Regions from separate parts of the Homo sapiens genome. Here all the other regions are linked to region 3. Evidence: fine-mapped expression QTL. A gene starts in region 3. Each other region holds a variant in brackets. All regions are shown on one strand. Distances are between the middles of the regions. Region 1 holds the start of SAPCD2 (suppressor APC domain containing 2). Region 2 overlaps MAMDC4 (MAM domain containing 4). Region 3 holds the start of DPP7 (dipeptidyl peptidase 7).

Evidence for each region. PIP is the estimated chance that this variant, and not a neighbour inherited with it, causes the effect. A credible set is the group of variants that fine-mapping cannot tell apart.
Region 1: its variant is the best candidate, but not a certain one, in a credible set for the expression of DPP7 in whole blood (TOPMed, PIP 0.83).
Region 2: its variant is the best candidate, but not a certain one, in a credible set for the expression of DPP7 in whole blood (INTERVAL, PIP 0.77).

Annotation. Positions count from the first base shown.
Region 1 is chr9:137,067,418-137,077,451 of GRCh38, reverse strand. SAPCD2 (suppressor APC domain containing 2) reads left to right here and starts at 6,895. Exons shown (of 6, transcript NM_178448.4): 1 at 6,895-7,562. The coding sequence starts at 6,992. RefSeq lists silencers at 1-2, 13-102, 6,838-7,247, 7,418-7,467, 7,518-7,567 and 1 more and enhancers at 2,787-2,846, 2,557-3,170, 5,754-6,733, 9,294-9,343, 8,696-9,676. The variant G/A (reference allele first, on the strand shown) is at 2,126.
Region 2 is chr9:136,853,094-136,857,746 of GRCh38, reverse strand. It overlaps MAMDC4 (MAM domain containing 4), which reads right to left. Exons shown (of 27, transcript NM_206920.3): 2 at 4,538-4,645; 3 at 4,289-4,462; 4 at 4,077-4,202; 5 at 3,840-3,970; 6 at 3,671-3,755; 7 at 3,411-3,536; 8 at 3,071-3,208; 9 at 2,897-2,985; 10 at 2,637-2,810; 11 at 2,409-2,493; 12 at 2,128-2,316; 13 at 1,899-2,015; 14 at 1,598-1,729; 15 at 921-1,037; 4 more. Among named protein-coding and RNA genes, the nearest start is that of MAMDC4, 3.1 kb to the right of the region's middle. RefSeq lists an enhancer at 1-103. The variant G/A (reference allele first, on the strand shown) is at 2,645.
Region 3 is chr9:137,109,709-137,119,125 of GRCh38, reverse strand. It overlaps DPP7 (dipeptidyl peptidase 7), which reads left to right and starts at 4,393. Exons shown (of 13, transcript NM_013379.3): 1 at 4,393-4,479; 2 at 4,550-4,663; 3 at 4,744-4,883; 4 at 5,098-5,261; 5 at 5,630-5,765; 6 at 5,839-5,920; 7 at 6,007-6,173; 8 at 6,321-6,381; 9 at 6,896-7,014; 10 at 7,097-7,253; 11 at 7,372-7,436; 12 at 8,176-8,246; 13 at 8,343-8,580. The coding sequence starts at 4,413. The coding sequence ends at 8,478. LOC124902314 (a long non-coding RNA gene) reads right to left here and starts at 4,327. Exons shown (of 2, transcript XR_007061874.1): 1 at 2,082-4,327; 2 at 1,348-1,955. RefSeq lists silencers at 4,168-4,517, 4,548-4,697.

The DNA.
Region 1 (10,034 bases), 42 kb after region 3:
CCCCCAGTGGGGCGGGCCCCGGGCGCCCCGCCCCGCCCCGCCCCGCCCCGCCCCATCCCGCCCGGTCCCGCGCCCTGCCCTGGAGCCCGCCCACCCCCGCTGCGCACCCCAGACTCTGTCCGGGTTCTCTCTGACCCCGCCCTGTCTACATCCCCCCAGCCCCCCCGCGTCCGGTCCGAGACTCGAGACAGGGCCCAGCCCCATCTCTCCAGCCTGTCCCCCGTCCCTCTCCGTCCCCTGGACCCGCTCCGGTGTCTGGCCCTGGCCTGCTCCCTCGAGCTCCCGTCCCCGTTCCTGCTCTTCTCCAGGCCCCGGGCCCATGCCCGCCCTGTCCACTCCGCGCCCCGCCCCGAGAGATCCCAGGACCCTCTGGGTCGCGCCAGCTGGCGTGGGCAGAGGAATCGACCATTGAGCTAAGGGAGGAAGAGGCCCCAGGGACGCCCCGCAGGGGAAAGCTAGGTTCTGTCCCAGCACGGGCTTTGAACCTGAGAGTGGCATGGCCACCTTTGCGCTAACCAAGACTTGGACGGAGACCTCCTGGTGCAGAGACAACCGGCCAGAGTGCATTGAAGAGGCCTGGGCTACGGCTGAGCTGTTGGGAGGCTGGAACCAGACCAGGTTCCGGGATGCCATCCCGCGGCTTGGGGCTCCCTCCCGCACACCCTTCCTGCTTCCCATTGCCTGGTGACCAGAGCGCTCTGCAGCCCCTCGCCCACATTGTTATTTTACTATCAGGTTTTAAAATATCTTGCTTGTGGTCGGCGCGGTGGCTCAAGCCTGTAATCCCAGCACTTTGGGAGTCCTAAGTGGGGTCAGGAATTCGAGACCAGCCTGGCCAACATGGTGAAACCCCGTCTCTAATAAAAATAGAAAAATTAGCCGGGTGTGGTGGCAGGCGCCTGTAGTCCCAGCTACTCGGGAGGCTGAGGCAGGAGGCCTTGAACTCAGGAGGCGGAGGTTTCAGTGAGCCGAGATCCTGCTGCTGCACTCCAGCCTGGGAGACAGAGTGAGACTTCTCAATAAAAATAAAAATAAAATAGTTTGCTTGTGAAAAATATGAAAGGGTAGCTTCTGCCAGTTGGGCACAAAACTTTCTCCTAGAAACTATATAGTAAGTCTAAAAGTAATATATGTGACTGCATAAAAGAATTCAAATGGTGGCCAGGTGCAGTGGCTCATGCCTGTAATCCTAACACCTTGGGATACCGAGACAGGATGATCGCTTGAGCCCAGGAGTTCAAGACCAGCTTGGGCAACATGGTGAAACCCCGTCTCCACTAAAAATACAAAAATCAGCCAGGTGTGGTGGCGTGTACCTGTAGTCCCAGCTACTTGGGAGGATGAGGCACGAGAATCACTTGAACCCGGGAGGCGGAGGTTACAGTGAGCCAAGATCGCACCACTGCACTCCAGCCTGGGTGACAGAGCGAAACTCTGTCTCAAAAAAAAAAAAAAAAAAAAAACCGGGCGCAGTGGCTCACTTCTGTAATCCCAGCACTTTGGGAGGCCAAGGCGGGCGGATCACCTGAGGTCTGGGGTTTGAGACCAGCCTGACTAACATGGAGAAACCCTGTCTCTACTAAAAATAGATACAAATATTAAATATAAATATAAATATATAAGCATGGTGTTGCATGCTTATAATCCCAGCTACTCCAGAGGCTGAGGCAGGAGAATCGCTTGAACCTGGGAGGCGGAGGTTGCCATGAGCCAAGATCGCGCCATTGCACTCCAGCCTGGGCAACAAGGGCGAAGCTCTGTCTCAAAAAACAAACAAACAAACCGAAAAAGAAAAACAAATCATGCTGTTACAGGAAAGAGGTTCCAGACCTCAAGAGAGGGTTCTTGGATCTTGCGCAAGAAAGAATTCAGGGCAAGCCCATACAGTAAAGCAAAAGCAAGTTATCAGGAAAGTAAAGGAATAAAGAATGGTTTCTCTACAGACAGAGCAGCCCTGAGGGCTGCTGGTTGCCCATTGTTATGTTTTTTTGGATGACATGCTAAACAAGGAGTGGATAATTCATCCCTCCCCTTTGTAGACCATATAGGGGAACTTCCTGACGTTGCAGTGGCATCTGTAAACCGTCATGGTGCTGGTGGGAGTGTAGCGGCAAGGACAACCAGA[G/A]GTCACTGTCGTTGCCATCTTGGTTTTGGTGGGTTTTGGCCGGCTTCTTTATCGGAACCTCTTTTATCAGCAAGGTCTTTGTGACCTGTATCTTGTGCCGACCTCCTGTGTCATCCTGACTTGGAATCCTTTAACCATCCAGAAATGCAGCTCAGTAGGCCCCAGCCTTATTTTACCCAGCTCCCATTCAAGATGGAGTTGCTCTGGTTCACACACCTCTGACAGTGATCTAGGACCCAAAATGAAAACTAACATCTCCCTCATGCTGCCCCGTGGACCCCTCAGGCAGTTGTGTTTCCTTGCAGTTGGGTTCTGCCCCCACCTCCACACACATGCCCTCACTGAGTTTGGGAGGGGGCTTCACCCCTGGGGCAAGGCCCACATGCACTCTTCTGGACCTGCATGGAGTTGCTTTTCGGGCCTGCCTCAGGGTCTCTGCACTTCCTGTTCCTCCCTCCTGGACCGCTTGTCCCCAGAGAAACGTGTGGCTGGGGACGCATTTGGTCAGGCCTCAGCTCCCCAGGCCACGCCCACTCGGTGAGCACCTTCCCATCCTCCGTGCCAGGCTGCCTTTCTGCATTCTTGGCTACCTGACTCCCCTGTGAGAAGCGAACCCCACAAAGGCGGGGAGTTGCTGTTTTTGTTTTGTTTTGTTTTTTGTTTTGAGACCGTGTCTCATTCTGTCGCCCAGGCTGGAGTGCAGTGGTGCAATCTCGGCTCACTGTAACCTCCGCCTCCCGGGTTCAAGTGATTCTCCTGCCTCAGCCTCCTGAGTAGCTGGGATTACAGGCGCCCGCCACCACACACAGCTAATTTTTTGTATTTTTAGTAGCGATGGTTGGCCAGGCTGGTCTTGAACTCCTGACCCCATGATTTGCCCGCCTCGGCCTCCCAAAGTGTTGGGATTACAGGCATGAGCCACCGTGCCCAGCCCAGGCAGGGCATTGTTTAGGCCAGTGGTCTGCCCCCATCACCTCAGGTAAATGCAGCACACAGTAGGCACTCAATCAATGTTTGTTGATTGAACAAACGAGTGTTGAACCCCAGCCCACACCGTGACTGGGCAACAGCAAATGTTCAGGGAGTACCTGCTGCATGAATGAATTAATGAATGGCCTGTTCTGCTCCAGTGGTTTGTGGTGGTTGAACATCGTTTAGGTGAACGTTGGAGTTGGAGGGGAGGCTCGCGGAATCCGGTGAGCAGAGCAGGCTTCCCGCCCCAGGCCAGAGTCCATGGGAACCCTTATCACCCCTGCAGGGCTGGGCAGCAGAGGAGGCACATGTCTCTTGGAGGCAGGTGTCAGGACATGAACTGTTGGCCCTGTAGGTCAGGGTGATTCCAAATCCCACCTCAAGGTGTGGGTTGGGCTGTAATAGAAGATTTGGAAAATCAAGGTTTGTACAGCCAGAGGCACTTGCGGCACCAGAAGGGGAGGAGCGACCCTGCCCAGACCGACAGAGCCTACGGATGGGTGGGAGTGCTGGCAAGGCTGAGGTGGGCAGCAACCTCCTGGACCACCTTGTGGCCAGGCAGTTGTCTTCACAAGAGGCCCAGGGGAGCAAGGCCCTAAGGCTCAGAGGCCAGGAGTGCAGACGGGGAGCCCTGGGAGGCTCAGGGGCTGGGTGGCTGTTGCCAGTTCTTCACTTGGTGCCCACTGCTGGGGATACATCAGGGGACAGAGGGGCCGGTCTTCCTGCCACCTCTGCCCAGAGTGGTCCAGGCTTACACAGTGAGAACACAATTACAGCTAAGATGGGGCCTCCAAAAGTACAGGGACAGCATGGGACCCCCAGGGGTGACACAGCACTAAAACCTGAAGGATTGGGAAACTATCAGGCCAGCCGGAAAGTGGAGTGAAGGAGGAAGTGGTCAGAGCTCAGGACAGGAAGGACACAGGACCACATCTTAGCTCCACGCCCAAAGCCAGGCACAGCCTCCAGTCTTTTTTTTTTTTTTTGAGACGGAGTCTCGCTCTGTCGCCCAGGCTGGAGTGCAGTGGTGCCATCTCGGCTCACTGCAAGCTCCGCCTCCTGGATTCACGCCATTCTCCTGCCTCAGCCTCCCGAATAGATGGGACTACAGACGCCCGCCACCACGCCCGGCTCATTTTTTGTGTGTGTGTGTGTTTTTAGTAGAGACGGGGTTTCACCATGTTAGCCAGGATGGTCTCGATCTCCAGACCTCGTGATCCTCCCGCCTTGGCCTCCCAAAGTGCTGGGATTACAGGCATGAGCCACCGTGCCCAGCCTTTTTTTTTTTTTTTTTTTGAGATGGAGTTTTGCTCTTCTTGACCAGGCTAGAGTGCAATGGCGCGATCTTGGCTCACCGCAACCTCCACCTCCGGGGTTCAAGCTATTCTCCTGCCTCAGCCTCCCGAGTAGCTGGGATTACAGGCATGGGCCACCATGCCCGGCTAATTTCGTATTTTTAGTAGAGACGGGATTTCTCCATGTTGGTCAGGCTGGTCTCGAACTCCTGACCTCAGGTGATCCGCCCGCCTTGGCCTCCCAAAGTGCTGGGATTACAGGCGTGAGCCACCGTGCCCGGCCTCCAGTCTTTTTCATACCTTCCTCCAATACCCAGCCAGGGGCCACAGAGAAGCCCACAGACCAAGGGCCAGCTGGGGCCGCCTCCCCCAAGGCTCTGGATGGTATGAAAAGCCCTTGTTTCATCTGCACGGTGGGTTCAGTTCCATGCGGGGCCATGGCTGGCCTGGCCTGGACACTGCTGGCCACGCTGTCCTGAGCTGCAGCAGCCTTGCTCACTGCTGGCCACCGACTCCACATCCACACTGGCCTCCCCTGCCATACCACTGAGCTGTTCCCAGCCCTTCCCCATCCCTTAGGCCTCAGCCTGGCTTGGTGCCCACTCAAGGATGGTGTTTCCCATATGATTTCACTGGATACGGCTCCCCAGTGCCATTCACAGAGCACCCACTGTGGGCCAGGCCAATGCCAGGCCTAGAAGGAGCCCTGTCCTGCTTGCAAATAGCCAGGGCCCCCTGGGCCAGGAGAAAGCTGTCCCCTGTGTTTTATCTAACTAGGCTTCAGGGGGAAGGGGACTGGGGCCAGAGCAGAGTTCTGAAGGATGTAGTGCGGTCAGCCTGGAGCAGAGGGGAAGGGCCTTCCTGGTAGAAGAGCCACCAGGCACAGGGGCCTGGAAGTGAGGGAGTGCAGGGACCCCAGGCCTGGCACTGGCGGTGAGGGGTGTGCTGGAAGCAGGGTAGGTGTGGGGATGGGGGGGCGGGGGCTTGCGTGTTGTGCTGGTTTGTTTTGTTTTGTTTTGTTTTTGAGACAAGATCTCGCTCTGTCACCCAGGATGGAGAGCAGTGGCTCAATCACAGCTCACTGCAGCCTCAACCTCTTGGGTTCAAGGGATCCTCCCACCTCAGCCTCCCAAATACCTGGGACCACAGGCATGCACCACCACGCCTGGCTAATTTTTTAAACTTTTTGTAGAAATAGGGTTGCCTTATGTTGCCCAGGCTGGTCTTGAACTCCCCAGCTCAAGTGATCCTCCCGCCTCGGCCTCGTGCTGGGTTTTTGAGCAGACCAGCCATTAAAGGGGAAGCTGGCTTACAGGACCAAGCTCTGATGGGCTGCTCCAGGCTCAGAGCTTCTTATGTCCTTCCAGCATTCCCTACGATGAAGGAGTCCCACTTAGAGTGAGTGACCCAGAAGAGAAGTGGACCCAGGATACTCCCTGGCCTGGGAAGATGCCTCTACAGCTTGAGACACAGGCACCAGTGGCTCAGGCCTGAGGACAGAGACCCAGGTAGGTATGCCAGCTGAGGCCTGCCCAGGAGGGAGGGTGGGAGACCCGCAGAGGGCCAAGGCAAGTCTCGGATTGGGGGCCTGTCTGGGGAGGGTGTTTGCACCCTGAACACCTCCCTGGAACCTAGAGGGTACTACTGGCCAGCCCTGAGATGGGCTCCCAGGGCTAGAACCCAGGCTAAGGCCTGGTCTCACCTCCCATGTGGACAGACCAAATGAAGACAGAGTGACCAGATCCCAGCTGGAAACACAGCAGAGGCAGGGGGACAGGGCTGCGGGAGCCAGGAGAGCAGCTGGAGGAGGTGTCCAGCCAGGGGAAGGAGGAGAGGAGAGCAAGAGGCAGAGGGAGCTGGTCACTAGATGGGGATCTGGGGACACAGGAGAAAGTGGCTTTGTTCTGCAGCAGGCAGGCCAGGCCAGACTGTCCCGAGGGACCAGAGGAGGAGCCAGCAGCAGTGGGGACAGAAAGGCCTCTGTGAGTGGGAAGCGCCCAGCTGGCTGGAGCCTACGATCCTCTTGGGGCCCTCCTGGTGGAAGAGAAGGGGGCCGCAGGGTCACCTGTGCTTGCGGCCAGGGAACTAGAGGGGAAAAGTGGGATCTTTGGAGGGGGTGCCCCCCCCCATTCTTACCCCACGAGGCTACCTGGAGACAGGTTTTTTTGTAGGGTGCCAGGCCCCGCCCCTTGGAGAGGTGGCCGGGGCAGCCAGCCACAGCTGGATCCGAGAAAGCGCCTGGCCGCGGCAGGAGGTTTGGTGGGGCTGGGGCGGGGCAGAAAGGAAGGTCTGCGAGGCCAGAGTGGAGCAGGAGCTGGGGGATCCGGTTCCGCCTGCCCAGGGCCTCCGCGCGCCTCCCAGGGCCACTCGGCAAGAAAAAAAAAAAAAAAATCAAACCTCCTCTCAGCCTATCAGAGAGCAGATGGGACGGGCTCGGCCAATGGCCGCGGCGCATGTTAATGAGGGCTGACGCCGCGAGGAGGGCCCCATTCAAAAGTAGTCGCTATTGTCGCCGTGGGCTGAGCTCGCCGGGCCGGCCCCTCCGTGGGGCCGCGCTGGGACGCACGCGGGTGGACGAGGGGACCGATCCCGGGCGCCCATGGCCGGGGCCGCCATGGCCGAGCGGGGCCGCGTGCCTCCCCCCGCACCCGCGCCCAGCACGGAGGGGCTGCCGCGCGCCTTCCTGCAGAGCCTGCGCACCCTGTTCGACATCCTGGACGACCGGCGGCGCGGCTGCGTGCACCTGCGCGAGATCGAGTCCCGCTGGCAGGGCACCGACGCGCGGGAGCTGCCCCGCGGGGTGCTGGAGGGCTTGCGCCAGGTGGCCCCGGCCAGCGGCTACCTGACCTTCGAGCGCTTCGTGGCCGGCCTGCGCACCTCCCTGCTGAGCGCCGACGGCGGCCCCCGGGACCCCACGCGCGCCCCGGCCCGGCCCGGGGATCAGCCGCCGCCGCCGCCGCAGCGCCTGGTGTTCGCTCCGGCCGACGAGCCGCGGACGGTCCTGGAGAGGAAGCCCCTGCCCCTGGGCGTGCGCGCCCCTCTGGCCGGTCCCAGCGCCGCCGCCCGCAGCCCGGAGCAGCTGTGCGCCCCGGCTGAGGCGGCGCCCTGCCCCGCGGAGCCCGAGCGGTCCCAGAGCGCGGCGCTGGAACCGAGCTCCAGCGCGGACGCAGGTGAGTTCCGGACGGCCCCCGGGCACCCTCGTAGCTCTCCCGGGCCCGGGCCAGAAACCGCAGTCCCACAGCTGCTGCCCGTGCATTTCCCACAAGGGACGGGACCGGGGAGCGGCTCTTCGTGGACTCCGGATCCTGGAGGGCGCCTCGGCGGGTCTGGAGGGAAAGGGCTTCATGCTTGTCGCGGTGAGCCCAGGGGCTTGCTTAGGGAGGCAAGCCAGACCCTCTCCTGCCACAGCATAAGGCCACCAGGGCCGGGGGGTGGCAGGTGACTCAGAAAACCCACCGGGAGCCCAACCTGTACCAAGCCTGAGCTTGGGCTCTCCATCTCCAATACCCTTTCCGCACCTGGGGACACCTGGGCCCTCAGCCTCCTGTCTGTGGCTGCTCAGGCAGAAGTGCTTCCTTCTCAAAGAAAGGGTCCCCCTTCTCAGTGTGACAGCTTAGCCAGGGGGGCTGGGCCCACTGACCCCACTGAGGCCTAGGCAGGCGGGGGCTGCTGCTGGTGGCCCAAGAGGACCTGGCCCTGTTGCCAAGATGGGCAGGGGCGTGGGTGGATCTCCTGCACCCCAGTGGGGCTGTACTATGGCAGATGCCATGGAGGGACATAGGCCGTAGTCCCTGGGGATGGCTGGCACACTCCTCTCCTGCCTTCCGGTCCAGTTGGCAGTGATGGGAGATTGCTGAATGGTCCCCTGTCTCCCCCAACCCAGTGCCTGCCTTGGGAACAGGACCTGTATTATGGCTGGGGTTGGGGGGCCAAGCTCCCAGAGGGGCCCCAGGCCCCACAGCCCATTCGGCCTGTGCACCCGTTCTGCCAGGGGAGGCCTGCCCACCGGTGGCTCCTGCCGGTCCCTGTGCTGCCTGCTGCTCTGCCACCCTCCCTGTACTGCTCCCCCACCTCAGCCATATTCTCCAGCCCTACAGCTGGTGTTTGGAGCCACGGCGGCCCTGGCCTCCCTGGTGATCTGATCCAGCAGCCACACCAGGCTGGGGGACCCCTAGTTCTATGGTGAGGGAACCTTCAGAGGGTATCTGGCTCCAAATGCAGGGTCAGCGTCATCCATGTGGCCATGCAGTTTGAAATCAGCCATGGGATTGCACGCTGTGGCCGGGCCTGGGGTTTGGAGGCCTAAGCCTGTGGTCCACCCCTGCTCTGCTCTGATGCCCCATGCGGCACTGGCTCACGTACCACATCTCCCTGAAGGCCACATGGCTAGGGCTGTAGCTGTCACCCTCTCACAGGCAAACGGAGGGCCAGACAAATGGCGTGACATATTTGATTGACACAGCTGGCTTTTGGGGTGTCAAATCTGGAGCTCTGAGGTCACCCCAACTCCCAGAAAGCCTGCCAACACACACAGCCTTCCAAGCCCCCAGCCCAGATGTTCAGGGCCTCTTTCCTTGTTCCCACCTGGGACTGCGTGTTTGCTCCAGGCTGGCTGTGGCCCTGGAGGTGTGGCCTGCTGGCTCAGGGCCCTGGAGGGGCAGAGCCACCACCCCCACCTAGAGGCCATCTAGCTCATCACCCAGCACGCTGCTATCTGGGGACCCAGGAGCTGCTCTATGGACTCAACTGTACAGACCGGGCCCAGGTGTCCTGGGACTTCCTCTATGGCCTCCCTCTGTCTGTACCCTCTCTGCTCCCACCTCCTGAAGGGCTGTGTGCTCTTCCACTGTCTTGCCCCAGAGCTGCCAGCCGCTCAGCACCGCAGGCTGGAGTGCGAATTCGGGCCTGCCTGGAGCCAGGCTCTCTGCCGTGCCTACCTGGGCCCAATTCTTGCATCACTCCCTGACTCCTGTGGCCAGGTGCCAGGGGCATGGCCTCTAAGGATGTGCCTGGTGCTGGGGCTACAGCTGGAGGCCGAAGGAGGATGCCTTCCTCCACACCTGTACCCACTTCTGTAGCCTGGGGAGGTGCACCTACTCCCTCACCAGGAAGCTGGGCCGGAGTGGCACCAACGCGATACTCTTGGCTGCCCCCAGGGGGAGCCCTCAAACAAACTTCAGAGCAGGGGTCTGTGAGCACCAGGACGTGCCTGACTTGTCAGTTGGGTGCACCGCCTGGCGTATCACACACGCGGGACTTTTTTTTTTTTTTTTTTTTTTTTTTTTGAGATGGAGTCTTGCTCTGTCGCCCAGGCTGGAGTGCAGTGGCGCGAATCTCAGCTCACTGCAACCTCCGCCTCCTGGGTTCAAGCGATCCTCCTGCTTCAGCCTCCCGAGTAGCTGGGATTACAGGTGCATGCCACCACGCCCTGCTAATTTTTGTATTTTTAGTAGAGACAGGGTTTCACCATGTTGGCTAGGCTGGTCTTGAACTCCTGACCTCAACTGATCCCCCCCCGCCCCAGCTTCCCAAAGTGCTGGGATTACAGGTGTGAGCCACCGTGCCCGGCAAGGGATCTTTTTTTTTTTTGAGACAAAGTTTTGCTGTGTTGCCCAGCCTGGAGTGCAGTGGCGCAATCTGGG
Region 2 (4,653 bases), 260 kb after region 3:
GCCAGGGGCCTGTGCTCCTTGGAGGTCAGGGAGGCCGTCTGGCCCCGGGGTAGTGCGTCTGGGCTTGTGTCCACCACCATGTAGTGCCCTGGAGGTGCCAGCATCAGCCTGCCAGCCCCTGGCCAGCCCCTCAATCCCTGCCCCTGCCAGGCCCCCATACCTTGGGCTGTCTCAGTGGTATGGTCTGTTGGGGGGCCCCAGGCAGCATGGCCCGAGGCATTGGCCTGCCGCCTCCAGAGACCTTGGCCTCCAGGGGAGAAGCCGCAGTCTGAGTCCTCAAAGGAGCAGTAATTAGGGGCCCAGCAGGGGCCCGGCCGCACGGCCACATCGTCCAGCGCCATGGTGCCGTGGTATCCGTCCCGGAGGCCCTCGAACAGCAGCTGGGGGTGGAGGGTGTCAGCTGGCCAGGGGCCCTGCCCTGTCCTCCCACCCGGGTGCCAGGCCTCACCTGGTACTGGGCATGGGAGCCAGGCTGGTGGGAAAGGGTGGCCCAGGCCTCGTGCCAGCGGTTGCCCTGGGTGCCTGACCGCGACCACAGGTGTGTCTCCTCCCCTTCCCGTCTCATGGCTAGGCGCAGAGTCCCTGCAGGGAGGGGACCAGTCCATAACTGACCTCTCTCCTGTGCCTTGATGGGTGTCAGAGCGGGGGACTCTGAACCCCCGGGGGCCTCCCCACAGGCTCTGCCCTGTTTCCAGGTCCACTCACCAATCTGGGGCCCATGGAGGTGGTACCAGAAGCTGAGACACTCCGTGGGTGCTGCTGGCACCTGGGGCCTGGAGAGCAGGTGGGCACTGTGGCCCCAGGCCAGGGGGTCTGTGGGGTCCAGGAGCACAAAGTGGCCTGCAGGGGGCATGGGGCTGTGCTGCAGAGATGCCCCACTCTCGTCTGAAAGCCACCCCCGGTCTGAGCGCCCATCCTACCTTGGCCTGTGGTGTGGTCGTGGTCAGGGCCGCGGCTCTCCACCCAGCGCCAGTGTGTGTCTGAGAGGTGGCCTGGGTACCAGCTGCATGTGTCCCGCTCAAAGTTACAGGAGACCTCTGGGGGTGGGGCCAGGTGGCGTCACACACCTTCTCCCCTCCCCCTCCAGAGCCCTGAGAAGGTGGAAGCTCCGGGGTCCCTGGAGGAGTGTAAGGGGAGCACCCAGGTGGGAGTGAGGATGGGCAGCAGGAACCTCTGTCTCTCTCGGTGGTCACTGTGGGGCTACAGTCCCTCAGGGTCACGTTGTCCACCCCAGCTCCCTGCTGGTCAGGGCCATCCAAGTCCACCAAACCGACAAACTCCAGCTTCATGGGGTAGGGGGATGAGGAGGATGGTTAAGTCAGGGCCCGCTCCAGCGGAGCTCCCACTCTGGGCTGCCCTCCTCACCCGGAAGGGCCGGCGGCGGGCCCCTAGAAGGACCTTGTCCACCTTCCAGATGCCTGCACTGCTGCTCAGGGCCTGCCATGCCAGCTCCCGGGAGCCGTTGTCCACCACAACTAGTGCCAGGAAGCCTGGCCAGCGGGGCGGGGGGCACTGTGGGTCACCCGGCCCCAGACCCCTCCCACTGTGCAGGGAGCACCCAGGGGCTGGCCAGGGAACTTGCGGAGTGTGGCGGTACCTCGGGGCTGGCTCTGTAAATAATAAGCCAGGTGGAGTTCACAGCTGGGGCCAGAAGGGCCAAGGAGGGGTGTGAGGACCCGGGCCTCAGCGCCTAGCTGCCCCCAGGCCCGCTGCAGAGACAGGAAGTGCCCTAGGGGAAGAGCATGGTGCTCAGAGCCTCATCCCTTCCAGGGCCCCACTCTGTCCCTCAGGGATCCCCAGTCCAGAGACCCTCTGTAGTGCAGAGGCAGAGCAGAGACCCCTCTGAGGACGCTGCTCACACCCGGGCGGGGGCTTGAGCCTTGGGCCTTGGGCCTCACCAGCAGCAGCTGCACTGGACCCCTGGCTCTCCTGGGCTGAGACACGCCGCCACTGCAGCCGCCCCACGCTGGCGTCCTCCCAGCCCCCAGCCTCGGGGGACTCAAAGTCTGTGGTGCCTGGAACAGCAGCCGGCACTGAATGGCAGAGTCCTCAGAGTCCTCAGCCTGCCCCGGCGCCTACCCCCTTGGCTCCGCAGCAGGAGGTCTGCAGGAGGTTGAGCCCCTTTACCACAGGCCTGCTCGTCCTCGCCCCCTGCGCACTGCTCCTCGAAGTCACACAGTTGTTCCGGGGGCACACACAGGTCCCCGCAGGCAAGATGCCCCTGCTTGCAGGAATCCTGGAGCCGCGAGCTGGGCGGCAGGGGCTGGGGGGCTGGGGCCCGGGGCCCAGGAGGCAGCGGCTGCAGGGTGGACACCTCTGTGGGGGCAGAACTGGTGTCAGGAGGCAGGGATGGGGAGTGCTGTGCCTCTCCAGGGCAAGGCAGGGTAGGGCAGAGTCAGCAGGCTCACCCGAGACTGGTCTGCAGTGGTCAGACAGGATGAGGTCGTCCAGACCCACGACGCCCCCCGGGCCTGTCTGCCCGGCCAGGAGGATCTGAGGGCAGAGGGGCTCAGGGGGTGCCCAGCCTATTTCCCCCTGGGGTCTGGTCCCTGTCCACCCGCAGTGGGTACCTTGTGGGTTCCCCTCCCCTGCCCACAGTGCGGCTCCCCAGACCCCACCCTCTTGCTGTTCCCTACCTGGAAGG[G/A]GTAGGCGCTCTGGATGTCAACACGGTCTCGGACCCAGGCGGTCCCCAGCTCCCCTCGGCGCCTCCGCAGCAGGACGGGGGCCCGGGGGGCGCCGGGCCCCAGAGTCTGCAGGAACAGCTGGAGGCAGCCAGCCTCAGACCCACTCAGGTACTGATAGAAGACCAGCTGTGGAACCAAGAGCTGGCTGGGGGCCTGCACCGGGGCAGCCAGCACGGAGAGCAGGGAGGCCCTGTGAGCCCCACCCATCTCACCGAGCAGTTGGAGGTGCCTGAGGCTTGGAATTCGGGGCTGGAGAGTATAGCAGGGGTGCCAGGCTCGGCCACGGAGACCAGGAAGGAGCCTGCGGGAAAGGACGGGAGTGGGCCAGGGCCACTGGGCTGTGGCTGCGTGGGCAGGGCCTGGGCCGGGTCCTCTGTGGGCCTCACCCTGTGCACTGTTCCGGCTGTGGTCACGGCGTGGCCAGGAGGGGCGCTCAGGACCACCAGCGCGGTGGTTCCGGGACCAGCCTTCCGAGCGGTTCCATGGGCCCAGGCCTGTCTCAAAGTCGGTGGCTATGTGGCGGCCTAGGGCAGGAGGTGGGCGTGTCAGGGCCACCAGGCAGTGCTTCCTGAAGCCGTATGGCCCCAGCTCCAGGGGGGCCCTGGCAACCACACCCCAAGAAGGACCATCCAAGGATCCAAGGCACCCCCTCCTGGATGAGTGCCAGGGCCCCCACCGAGGCGTCCAGTCTCCCAGCCTCACTCTGGGCCCCCACTCCGGCCTCACCACAGGTGAGTGGGTTCTCATCAGACAGGTCCCCGCAGTTGTCTTCCCCGTCGCACAGCTGCTGGGGCTCCACGCAGACCTTGTTCTGGCAGTGGTGGTGTCCCGGGGGACAGTTGGCCTGGGGGGCTGGGTGGGGCAGGGTTAACCCTTCACCGAGGCCCCAGGAGTGGGAGAGCACTCGGGGGCAGACAGGGTCTGAGCAGGGGAGTGGGCAGGTGGGGGCCCTCCCGGGGGTGGAACAGGAAGAGGCGGTGCCTTACTGGGCAGACCACAGTCCCAGAACTCTAGGTCATCTAGAGCCACAGCGCCCCTGTGGGTGGCATTTCGGGTGGCAGAGAAGGTCACCTGAAGAGAACAGGCTCTTAGGACCTAAGTCAGGGCCCAGACCCCTCCTCAAGGCCCCCACTCGTCCAGACCCTCCCAGCTCACTCGGAAGTCACCCCGGATGCGGCCTGTGGTCACTGCCAACTCCTGCCAGCCAGGGCCCCAGGGCCCTGTGCTCTGCCACAGGGTCAGGGTCTCTGCGCCATGGGTCAGCTCCACCCGCAGTTCAGCCACATCTGCAATGTCAGGGGTCCCAGGGCAGCTGCGGCCCTGCTTGTCCCCAGCTGCCCACCCGCCCTCCCCTTGGGCACCCCCCACGAGCCTTGGGGGTCCAGGGTGCACCTCCAGAGGCCGCGTGGTACCAGAGCCTCAGCTTGCAAGAGGAGGCTGCCTCTCGCAGGGTTGGCGAGCGCAGGGCTGCGGTGGATGCCTCTTTCCCTCGGTGGGTTCCAACGGCCATGTACCAGCCTGGCGCAGGTGAGAGGTCAGGAGACGGGGCAGGGAGCAAGGAGGGTATTGGGACAGGGGCGCACAGAGACTTGCCCTGGCCTCACCCAAGTCGGTGCCCAGTGTGTGGTCTGAGTGAGGCCCAGGACCCTCCAGTGCGGCCCCTGCCCTGTCTCGGAGCCAGCTGTAGCCTGAGGTACTAATGTCCCGCCAGCCGCAGGGGTCCTGCTCGAAGTCACAGGCGAAGGGGGCGCCCAGGGTGGGCGAGGCCCCGTGGTAACCTGGGAGAGTGGGTGGTCAGGTGTGTGCCAGACCTGCTCGCACTGGCCCTGCCCGCCCATCTGGTCTTGGCTCACCACACTGGGCCTCATCTGAGCAGTCCCTGCAGTCACACACGAAGTTGCACACGGCCTGGCCAGGGCTCCTGCAGTGGTTGGGGACCCAGGCCCAGCCTGAGGACCCTGCTGCTGGG
Region 3 (9,417 bases):
GGAGTGTGACCACTGAAGCACAGCATCACAGGGAGACGGTTAGGCCTCCGGATAACTGCGGGCGGGTCTGACTGATGTCAGGCCCTCCACAAGAGGTGGAGGAGCAGAGTCTTCTCTAAACTCCCCAGGGGAAAGGGAAACTCCCTTTCCCTGTCTGCTAAGTAGCAGGTGTTTTCCCTTGACACTGACGCTACTGCTAGACCATGGTCTGCTTGGCAACAGGTGTCTTCCCAGATGCTGGCATCACCGCTACACCAAGGAGCCCTCTGGTGGCCCTGTCCTGGCATAACAGAAGGCTCGCACTCTTGTCTTCTGGTCACTCCTCACTATGTCCCCTCAGCTCCTATCTCTGTATGGCCTGGTTTTTCCTAGGTTATGATTGTAGAGTGAGGATTATTATAATATTGGAATAAAGAATAAGTACTACTAATGATTAATTATATTCATATATAATCATATCTAAGATCTATATCTGGTATAACTATTCTTGTTTTATATTTTATTATACTGGAACAGCTCATGTCCTCGGTCTCTTGCCTTGGCACCTGAGTGGCTTGCCACCCACAATCCTGACTAACACAGTGAAACCCCGTGTCTACTAAAAATACAAAAATTAGCCAGGCATGTGGATGTGCGCCTGTAATCCCAGCTACTCAGGAGGCTGAGGCAGGAGAATTGCTTGAACCCGGGAGGTGGAGCTTGCAGTGAGCTGAGATTGCGCCATTGCACTCCAGCTTGGGCAACAGAGCGAGACTGTCTCAAAAAAAAAAAAAAAAAAAAAAAAAGCAGGCATTTCACAGCCATGTTCATCGCATCAATATTCACAATGGCTAAAACAGGCCGGGTGTGGTGGCTCACGCCTGTAATCCCAGCGCTTTGGGAGGCTGAGGCTGACAGATCATCTGAGGTCAGGAGTTCAAGACCAGCCTGGCCAACATGCTGAAAACCTGTCTCTACTAAAAATGCAAAATTTAGCCAGGCGTGGTGGTGGGTGCCTGTAATCTCAGCTACTCCGGAGGCTGAGACAGGAGAATGGCCTGGACCCAGGAGGCGGAAGTTGCAGTAAGCCGAGATCGTGTCACTTCACTCCAGCCTGGACAACAGAGTGAGACTCTGTCTCGAAAAAAAAAAAGGACAAAATGCTGTAGGATTCCACTGATATGACGTACCTGGAGTCAGCAGAGCCACAGAGACAGATGGTAGAATGGTGAGTGCCAGGGGCTGGGGTCCATTGTTTAATGGCTACAGTTTCTACTGGGGGTGATGAGATAGTGGAAAATAGTGATGACGGTGCACAGCGTTGTGAAGGCAGGAATGTACCTAATGCCACCAAATTTCACACGCGGAAGTGGTTAAGTGGTCAATTTTATATTATGTATAATTCAGCACACAGACCAGCACGGCCCCAAGTGCGGATGCAGTAGGTCACGGCCAGCCGCCCGCCGATAGCCTTTCAGTCTGAGGGACAGCACAGACGTGATGTGTGGCCGGGCATGGCCCCCAGTCTGTGAGCCATAGAGGGTGGGACTGGGTGTCCCAGCAGGAATCGGGGTGTGGAGGAGCTGCCTAGATGGTCTGGAGAGGGCAGATGGACCTCGAGGGGAGGGTTTGGGCTCAGCAGCCTCTCACCCTTGCTGGCCAGGCTCCCAGGATTCCCTGCCCAGGGACCTCTCACCCCCTCAGCTGGTGGCTCTGCAGCCAACCTGCCCGTCTGTGCTGCTCCGGGGATGGGCAGAGAGAGATCGGGGGTGTCTGCACAGGCATGGGCAGCCTAGGCTCACTTGCCCCTTGGGTGACCTACTGTGCCCTGCACAGGCTGACGAGGGCCCTGGCGATGCAGACCTGGGGTCCTCCTGCAGAAGTTGGGCCCCTTCACATGTCAGGTTGCTGTGCCAGTGAAGGGGTGGCCAGCCCCTCCACACCTGTGGGTGTTTCTCGTCAGGTGGGATGAGAGACTGAGAAAAGAAATAAGACACAGAGACAAAGTATAGAGAAGGCAGTGGGCCCAGGAGACGGCGCTCAGTATACGGAGGACCCGCACCGGCCCCGGTCTCTGAGTTCCCTCAGTATTTATTCATTACCATTTTCACTATCTTTGCATGAGGAATGCGGCAGCAGAGCAGAGGTCAGCAAGAAAATGTGAGCAAAGGCATCTGTGTCACAAATAGCTTGAAGGGAAGGTGCTGTGCCCGGATGTGCACGTAGGCCAGATTCATGCTTCTCTCCACCCAAACATCTCAGTGTAGCAGAGTAACAGAGCAGCATTGCCGCCAGCATATCTCGCCTCCAGCCACAGGGCGGTTTTCTCCTGTCTCAGAATAGAACTAATGTACGATCGGGTTTTACACGGAGACATTCCGTTCCCAGGGGCATGTCGGAGACAGAAGCCTTCCTCTTATCTCAACTGCAAAGAGGCCTCCCTCTTTCACTAATCCTCCTCAGCACAGACCCTTTATGGGTGTCGGGCTGGGGGACGATCAGGTCTTTCCCTTCCCACGAGGCCATATCTCAGGCCGTCTCACTGGGGGGAAACCTGGACAATACCCAGGCTTTCTTGGGCAGAGGTCCCTGCGGCTTTCCGCAGTGCACTGTGTCCCTGGTTAATGGAGAATGGAGGATGGCGATGACTTTTACCAAGCATACTGCCTGCAAACACATTGTTAACAAAGCACATCCTGCACAGCCCTAAATCCCCTAAACCTTGAGTCAATACAGCACATGTTTCTGTGGGCACAGGGATGGGGCTAAGGTTACAGGTTACCAGCACAGGCCTAGATGCCTTAAACCTTGATTCCATACAGCATATGTTTCTGTGGGCACAGGGATGTGGGCAGGGGACTGTGGCCACCCTCACCCCTGGCAGAGCCATGCTGGGTAGCCCCATGCCCACCCTTCCCGGCTTGGGAGGCCCTGGCTGCTGCCCAGAGGGGCATCAATGCCTGGGCCGTGGACAAGAGGGAAAGTGGCTTCCTTGGAAACCCTGCTCCTGGAGCCCTCCCTGAGGCTCTGGCCCCTCTGTGGGCCCAGCCAAGCCTGGAGCGTCTCCAGGCTCTGGTGTGCTTGGGGAGCTGGCCAGCTCTCGGCCTAGCTGGCGTCTCCAGAGCTGCGGTCCTGGGTGAGGGTTGCTGGTGGAGTTCTGGCCACCTAAGGCACCCGAGGGAGCCAAAGGAGCAGAGGTGTGGGGTGGGGGACGCCGTGGGGTACCTCCACATCCAAGGAGGTCTGCTGTTTGTCCTCACCCCCGTCCTGCGGGGGCCCCGGCAGGCAGCCCCAGGAACTGCGTAGGGATGGGACAGGGCCCAGATGTGAGGGCCGTGGTGGGGACGGTGTGTGGCCCTGGATGACCTCGTGTTGCAGTGTGACGTGATGGTCACTGCCACCATGCTGAGGGCCCCAGCCACCAGTCACCCACCATGGGGGGTGCCTCTGTGTGAGGCACGGGAGGGCCATGGCGTGAGGGGCTGTGGAAGTGGCCGGTCTTCTCCGCTCAGCCCCACACAGGATGGGCAGGGCAGGGTCATGCTGGCCGAGGGTAGTCTTGGGAGAAGGACAGGGTAACTCTCTGTAGCTGAGCCCCTGCTGCCCCTGCACCTGTTCTGGGCCTGGCTAGCGGCCCATGTACATCCCCAGCAGGACTCCACGTAGCTAGTCTGGCACCCACCACTACGGCCCCCTCACCCACTCCCTGAACTGGACGCTGGGGAAAGGTGACTTCTTCCATCCTCTGGGTGCTCCCCAGGGAGGAGGCCCCAGCTCCCAGCAGAGGCCTCTGGTCCCCCCTTGTCCCTGCAGGGCTGTGTGGGCACACTGGGTGCCAGTCGGAAGGGCAGGTGGCGATTCCCAGCTCTTGGGAGCTACCCGGCCACATCCCGGCCCTGCCCAGACGCTCCAGGGGCACCCCACACTCCTGCCCGCTGCGAGGCCCCGCCCCGCCAAGCCCAGCCCGTTATCGCTTGGACAAACCCTGGGTTGCTTTCTTCGGGGGGCCAGCACTCTGTTTGGGACCCTCTCCCTCCCGCCCTTAGGGCAGCAGAACGGCCCCCACTCTCCCGGCCCTGCCTTGGAGTGGGGCACCTGCCAGGAGCAAGTGCTGGGGAGGCTTGGCGGGCGCAGCAGGGACTCGCCCTAGCGCAGCTCCGGATGGGGCCGCGGTAGGAGGACGAGCCAGTGGGGCGGGAGGCCGCGGAGATGGCCCGGGGGCCCTCTGCTTCCCCGCGCCGTGCCCGGGAAGGACCCCTGGGCAGCGGCCGCGGGGCGCGGGGTGTTGGGGGGCACAGCCCCGGCGCGGCGCTGAAGCAGCGACGGTCTCCGTGGGGACCGCGGGCGCCCGAAACACGTGGGGCCTGGAGGGAGGAGCGCGCCCTGGCGGCCCCGTGACCCCGCCCACGTGACGGGCGCCCGCGGAAGGCGACATGGGCTCCGCTCCCTGGGCCCCGGTCCTGCTGCTGGCGCTCGGGCTGCGCGGCCTCCAGGCGGGGGGTGAGTGGCGGCGCCCCCCGGCCCATTCCCCGGTCCCGGCCCCGCCTCTGAGGTTCGCGTCCCCCCACAGCCCGCAGGGCCCCGGACCCCGGCTTCCAGGAGCGCTTCTTCCAGCAGCGTCTGGACCACTTCAACTTCGAGCGCTTCGGCAACAAGACCTTCCCTCAGCGCTTCCTGGTGTCGGGTGAGACCCCGGCCCCGGCCCGGCCGCCCCCGCCGTCCCGCCGCCCCCCGGCACCCTCGCCTCATCCGCCCTCCCCACAGACAGGTTCTGGGTCCGGGGCGAGGGGCCCATCTTCTTCTACACTGGGAACGAGGGCGACGTGTGGGCCTTCGCCAACAACTCGGCCTTCGTCGCGGAGCTGGCGGCCGAGCGGGGGGCTCTACTGGTCTTCGCGGAGCACGTGGGTGCCGGGCGGGGTCGCGGGCGGGGTCGCGGGGCACGTGGGTGCCGGGCGGGGTCGCGGGCGGGGGTCGCGGGGCACGCGGGTGCCGGGCGGGGTCGCGGGCGGGGGTCGCGGGGCACGCGGGTGCCGGGCGGGGTCGCGGGCGGGGGTCGCGGGGCACGCGGGTGCCGGGCGGGGTCGCGGGGCCGGGCTCAATGGCACGTTCCCCCAGCGCTACTACGGGAAGTCGCTGCCGTTCGGTGCGCAGTCCACGCAGCGCGGGCACACGGAGCTGCTGACGGTGGAGCAGGCCCTGGCCGACTTCGCAGAGCTGCTCCGCGCGCTACGACGCGACCTCGGGGCCCAGGATGCCCCCGCCATCGCCTTCGGTGGAAGGTGGGCGCCTCCCCCGGCCTCCGCACCCCCTCCCTCCCCTGCCCCGACCCAGCGCCCCCAGCCCTTCTCCCCACTCCCCTCTGACTCCCACCGCTGCCTTTTCGTAAGGCCTCAGGCAGTGGTTCCAGGCTTAGTGTTGCCTCCCCCAGGAAGCCCTCCCACCTGTCCTCCCAGCCACCTGCTCAGCTTGGATGTGCGGCCACACTAGCGGCCTTTCCCAGTGAGAGCTGCACCCGCACCTGGCCCAGGGTTGGAATTTGTGGGTCTCAGAAGTGTCGTCCTCCTTGTGGCACCTGTGGGCCCCTGAGGAGGAAAAGAGGAAATGGGGTGTTGGGGGCAGCAGCCCTAACCCTGTGTCCCTCACCCAGTTATGGGGGGATGCTCAGTGCCTACCTGAGGATGAAGTATCCCCACCTGGTGGCGGGGGCGCTGGCGGCCAGCGCGCCCGTTCTAGCTGTGGCAGGCCTCGGCGACTCCAACCAGTTCTTCCGGGACGTCACGGCGGTGAGTGAGGCTTGGGGTCCTCCAGGCCCCCTAAGGGACAGCAGCTGCAGTCAGCACGGTCTCTTTCCCCCAGGACTTTGAGGGCCAGAGTCCCAAATGCACCCAGGGTGTGCGGGAAGCGTTCCGACAGATCAAGGACTTGTTCCTACAGGGAGGTGAGGTCCTCCCACCGCCTCCCACTGCCTGACCCGCCCCAGCGCCAGCTATGCCCAAACTTCAAGTCTCTGCCCCTTCCACGCAGCCTACGACACGGTCCGCTGGGAGTTCGGCACCTGCCAGCCGCTGTCAGACGAGAAGGACCTGACCCAGCTCTTCATGTTCGCCCGGAATGCCTTCACCGTGCTGGCCATGATGGACTACCCCTACCCCACTGACTTCCTGGGTCCCCTCCCTGCCAACCCCGTCAAGGTGAGGCGCCGCCTCCCAGGGCGCAGGGAGAGGCCGGCTGGAGTGTCCCGAGGCTGGTGGTCAGCGGCCTGACCCTCATCCTGGGAGCCAGGGAGGCGGAGCTGGTGGAGGGGACCCCGCTGAGTCGCCGCTGCCCCTGCACTCCAGGTGGGCTGTGATCGGCTGCTGAGTGAGGCCCAGAGGATCACGGGGCTGCGAGCACTGGCAGGTGCCCTTCCCCCGGCCCCAGATGGGCAAGTGTGGAGACCCCAGGCTTGGCTTGGGTCCTGGGGCCGGGTGGGGCGAGGATCCGCAGCCCGGCCAGGGGCTTTGCCTCCTGCCCCAGGGCTGTGGTGGGGTGGACAGCACGACCTTCCCAGAAACCCTGGGGGAGGCAGGGGCCGTCCCTGGGGACCCTCTCAGCACTGGCTGTAGCCAGGCCCAGCTTGGTGGGTGCTGCCCAAGGGGCCCCTGGGGTCCCCAGCATGGAGGGCAACAGAGGGCAGCAGGCCCCACCCTGCCCCGTGGAGAGCGGGGGGGCCCTCAACAGTCAGGCCCGGGGCTGGCAGCACAGACACCGCCGACCTCCAAGCAGGTAGCCTGGAGGGCCTTCCTCACTGGGACCTACAGATCCCAGAGCCCCAGATCCCCTGCAGGACCATTCCGAGGGGGGACAGGTTGGTGGCCGGAGCCCGCGGTGTGTCTGTGTGTGGCCGCTGGGCCCCAGCGCCTCTCCTCCCCAGGGCTGGTCTACAACGCCTCGGGCTCCGAGCACTGCTACGACATCTACCGGCTCTACCACAGCTGTGCTGACCCCACTGGCTGCGGCACCGGCCCCGACGCCAGGGCCTGGGACTACCAGGTGTGGGGGTGTGGGTGGCCTGGAACCACTCGGGGGCAAGGGTGGGCGTGGGCTGGCCTGACTCAGGCTGGGGCACCTGCAGGCCTGCACCGAGATCAACCTGACCTTCGCCAGCAACAATGTGACCGATATGTTCCCGGACCTGCCCTTCACTGACGAGCTCCGCCAGCGGTACTGCCTGGACACCTGGGGCGTGTGGCCCCGGCCCGACTGGCTGCTGACCAGCTTCTGGGGGGGTGGTAAGGCTGAGGGGGGGTGGGCCAGCGTCCTGCTTTCTGCCCCGAGCTCTGCACCCCCTGCCCATGGCTCACAGCCCCCGTGAGGGGCCCACATCACAACTTTCTCTGCCCCTTGCAGATCTCAGAGCCGCCAGCAACATCATCTTCTCCAACGGGAACCTGGACCCCTGGGCAGGGGGCGGGGTGAGTCCTGGCCTGGGCCCTATGACCCCGTTAGTTTGTTTGTTTTTTTTTTGAGACAGGGTCTTTCTCTGGCGCCCAGGCTGGAATACAGTGGCGAGATCAGGGTTCACTGCAGCCTTGACCTCTGAGGCTCAAGCCTCCCAGTAACTGGGACTACAGGCGCTCACCAACATGCCCAGCTAATTTAAAAAAATATTTTTTTGTAGAGACACAGTCTCACCATATCGCCCAGGCTGGTCTCGAACTCTTGGGCTCAAACGATCTTCCCCGCATGGCCTCCCAGAGTGCTGGGATCACAGGCCCCTCGCCTGCCCCTACCCTGCTCCCGTCTCACCCCCAGAGTGCTGGGATCACAGGCCCCTCGCCTGCCCCTACCCTGCTCCCGTCTCACCCCCAGAGTGCTGGGATCACAGGCCCCTCGCCTGCCCCTACCCTGCTCCCGTCTCACCCTCAGAGTGCTGGGATCACAGGCCCCTCACCTGCCCCTACCCTGCTCCTGTCTTACTCCCAGAGTGCTGGGATCACAGGCCTCACACCTGCCCCTTCCCTGCTCCTGTCTCACCCGGTTTTGCCCCCATCATCTCGTCACTTCCCACCTCCGTCTCTGGCTGGTTCTCTCTGGTTGCTTGATGGGCACTGAGTCTCGGCTCGCCCTCTCACGTCTCCTCTCCAATGGGCCCACGGAGGCTGGGCAGTTGCCTCGTTCCTCACCTGATGGAGTTCTTTCCACTGACCACAGATTCGGAGGAACCTGAGTGCCTCAGTCATCGCCGTCACCATCCAGGGGGGAGCGCACCACCTCGACCTCAGGTGCGGAGGGAGGTGGCCTGGCGGTGGTCGCGGGTCGGGCGGGACAGGCTCACCGAGGGCTGGGGCTGACGGGCCCCCTCTGTGCCCGCTCCCCAGAGCCTCCCACCCAGAAGATCCTGCTTCCGTGGTTGAGGCGCGGAAGCTGGAGGCCACCATCATCGGCGAGTGGGTAAAGGCAGCCAGGCGTGAGCAGCAGCCAGCTCTGCGTGGGGGGCCCAGACTCAGCCTCTGAGCACAGGACTGGAGGGGTCTCAAGGCTCCTCATGGAGTGGGGGCTTCACTCAAGCAGCTGGCGGCAGAGGGAAGGGGCTGAATAAACGCCTGGAGGCCTGGCCATGTATGTCCCGTCCTTCCTGTCTGTGGGGCCCACACGCAGGCTGTGGGAGCGGGACCCTCGGAGACACGGCTGGGGACGCGGCGCACCCCACACAGGCCGGGTATGCCATGTGCTCCACAAGGTAGAGGCTCCACAACGCTCAGGTCTGCTCCTTAGGGCAGCGGGGGGCAGTGCCCCGCAAGGAAGCCCCGCTCTGCTGAGCCGCAGCAGACAGAGGCTGCAGCCACACCTCCAAGGTGACTCCTTCCCTGACATCCTCTGTACACAGCGACCCCTCCAGGGGAGGCCACTGGACAGTGCTTTTGGCCCCCAAGGGGCATGCAGTTGCTGTCCCTCCACCCTCTGGGACCACGCCCCCAGCACGTTAGTCTCGGAGGTCTGGGTGAGATGGAGAAGGTGCACCTTTTCCGGCTGTTGAGGCCCCACCTGCTGCCCTAGTCCTGCCCGTTCAGCCGGCCATGGGGCACCTGGTCCAGGAGGGCAGCACTGGGCCCACCGTGACAAGGGGCGGGCTAGGGTGGTACTGACAAGGGGCAGGCTAGGGCCGTGCTGGGCCCACCGTGACAAGGGGCAGGCGCCAGGGTCACATGACAGCCGATGTTCTCACCTTTCCAGGCACAGAGGGTGGAGTGCAGGATCAGGGCCCAGCATGAAGTGGGAGACGAAGCCCCAGGGTGCCCACTGTCCCCAGAGGGACACAGGTGGCTGCTGTGGGATGTTGGGGGTTGTGGGGACAGGCAGAGCCGAGGCCCACACTCGGGGCCCGGACGTCCCGAGGGGCGGAGCTGGCAATCCTGGGCTGGGTCCGGGTAGCCCTGCCCTGTGCCGCCACCG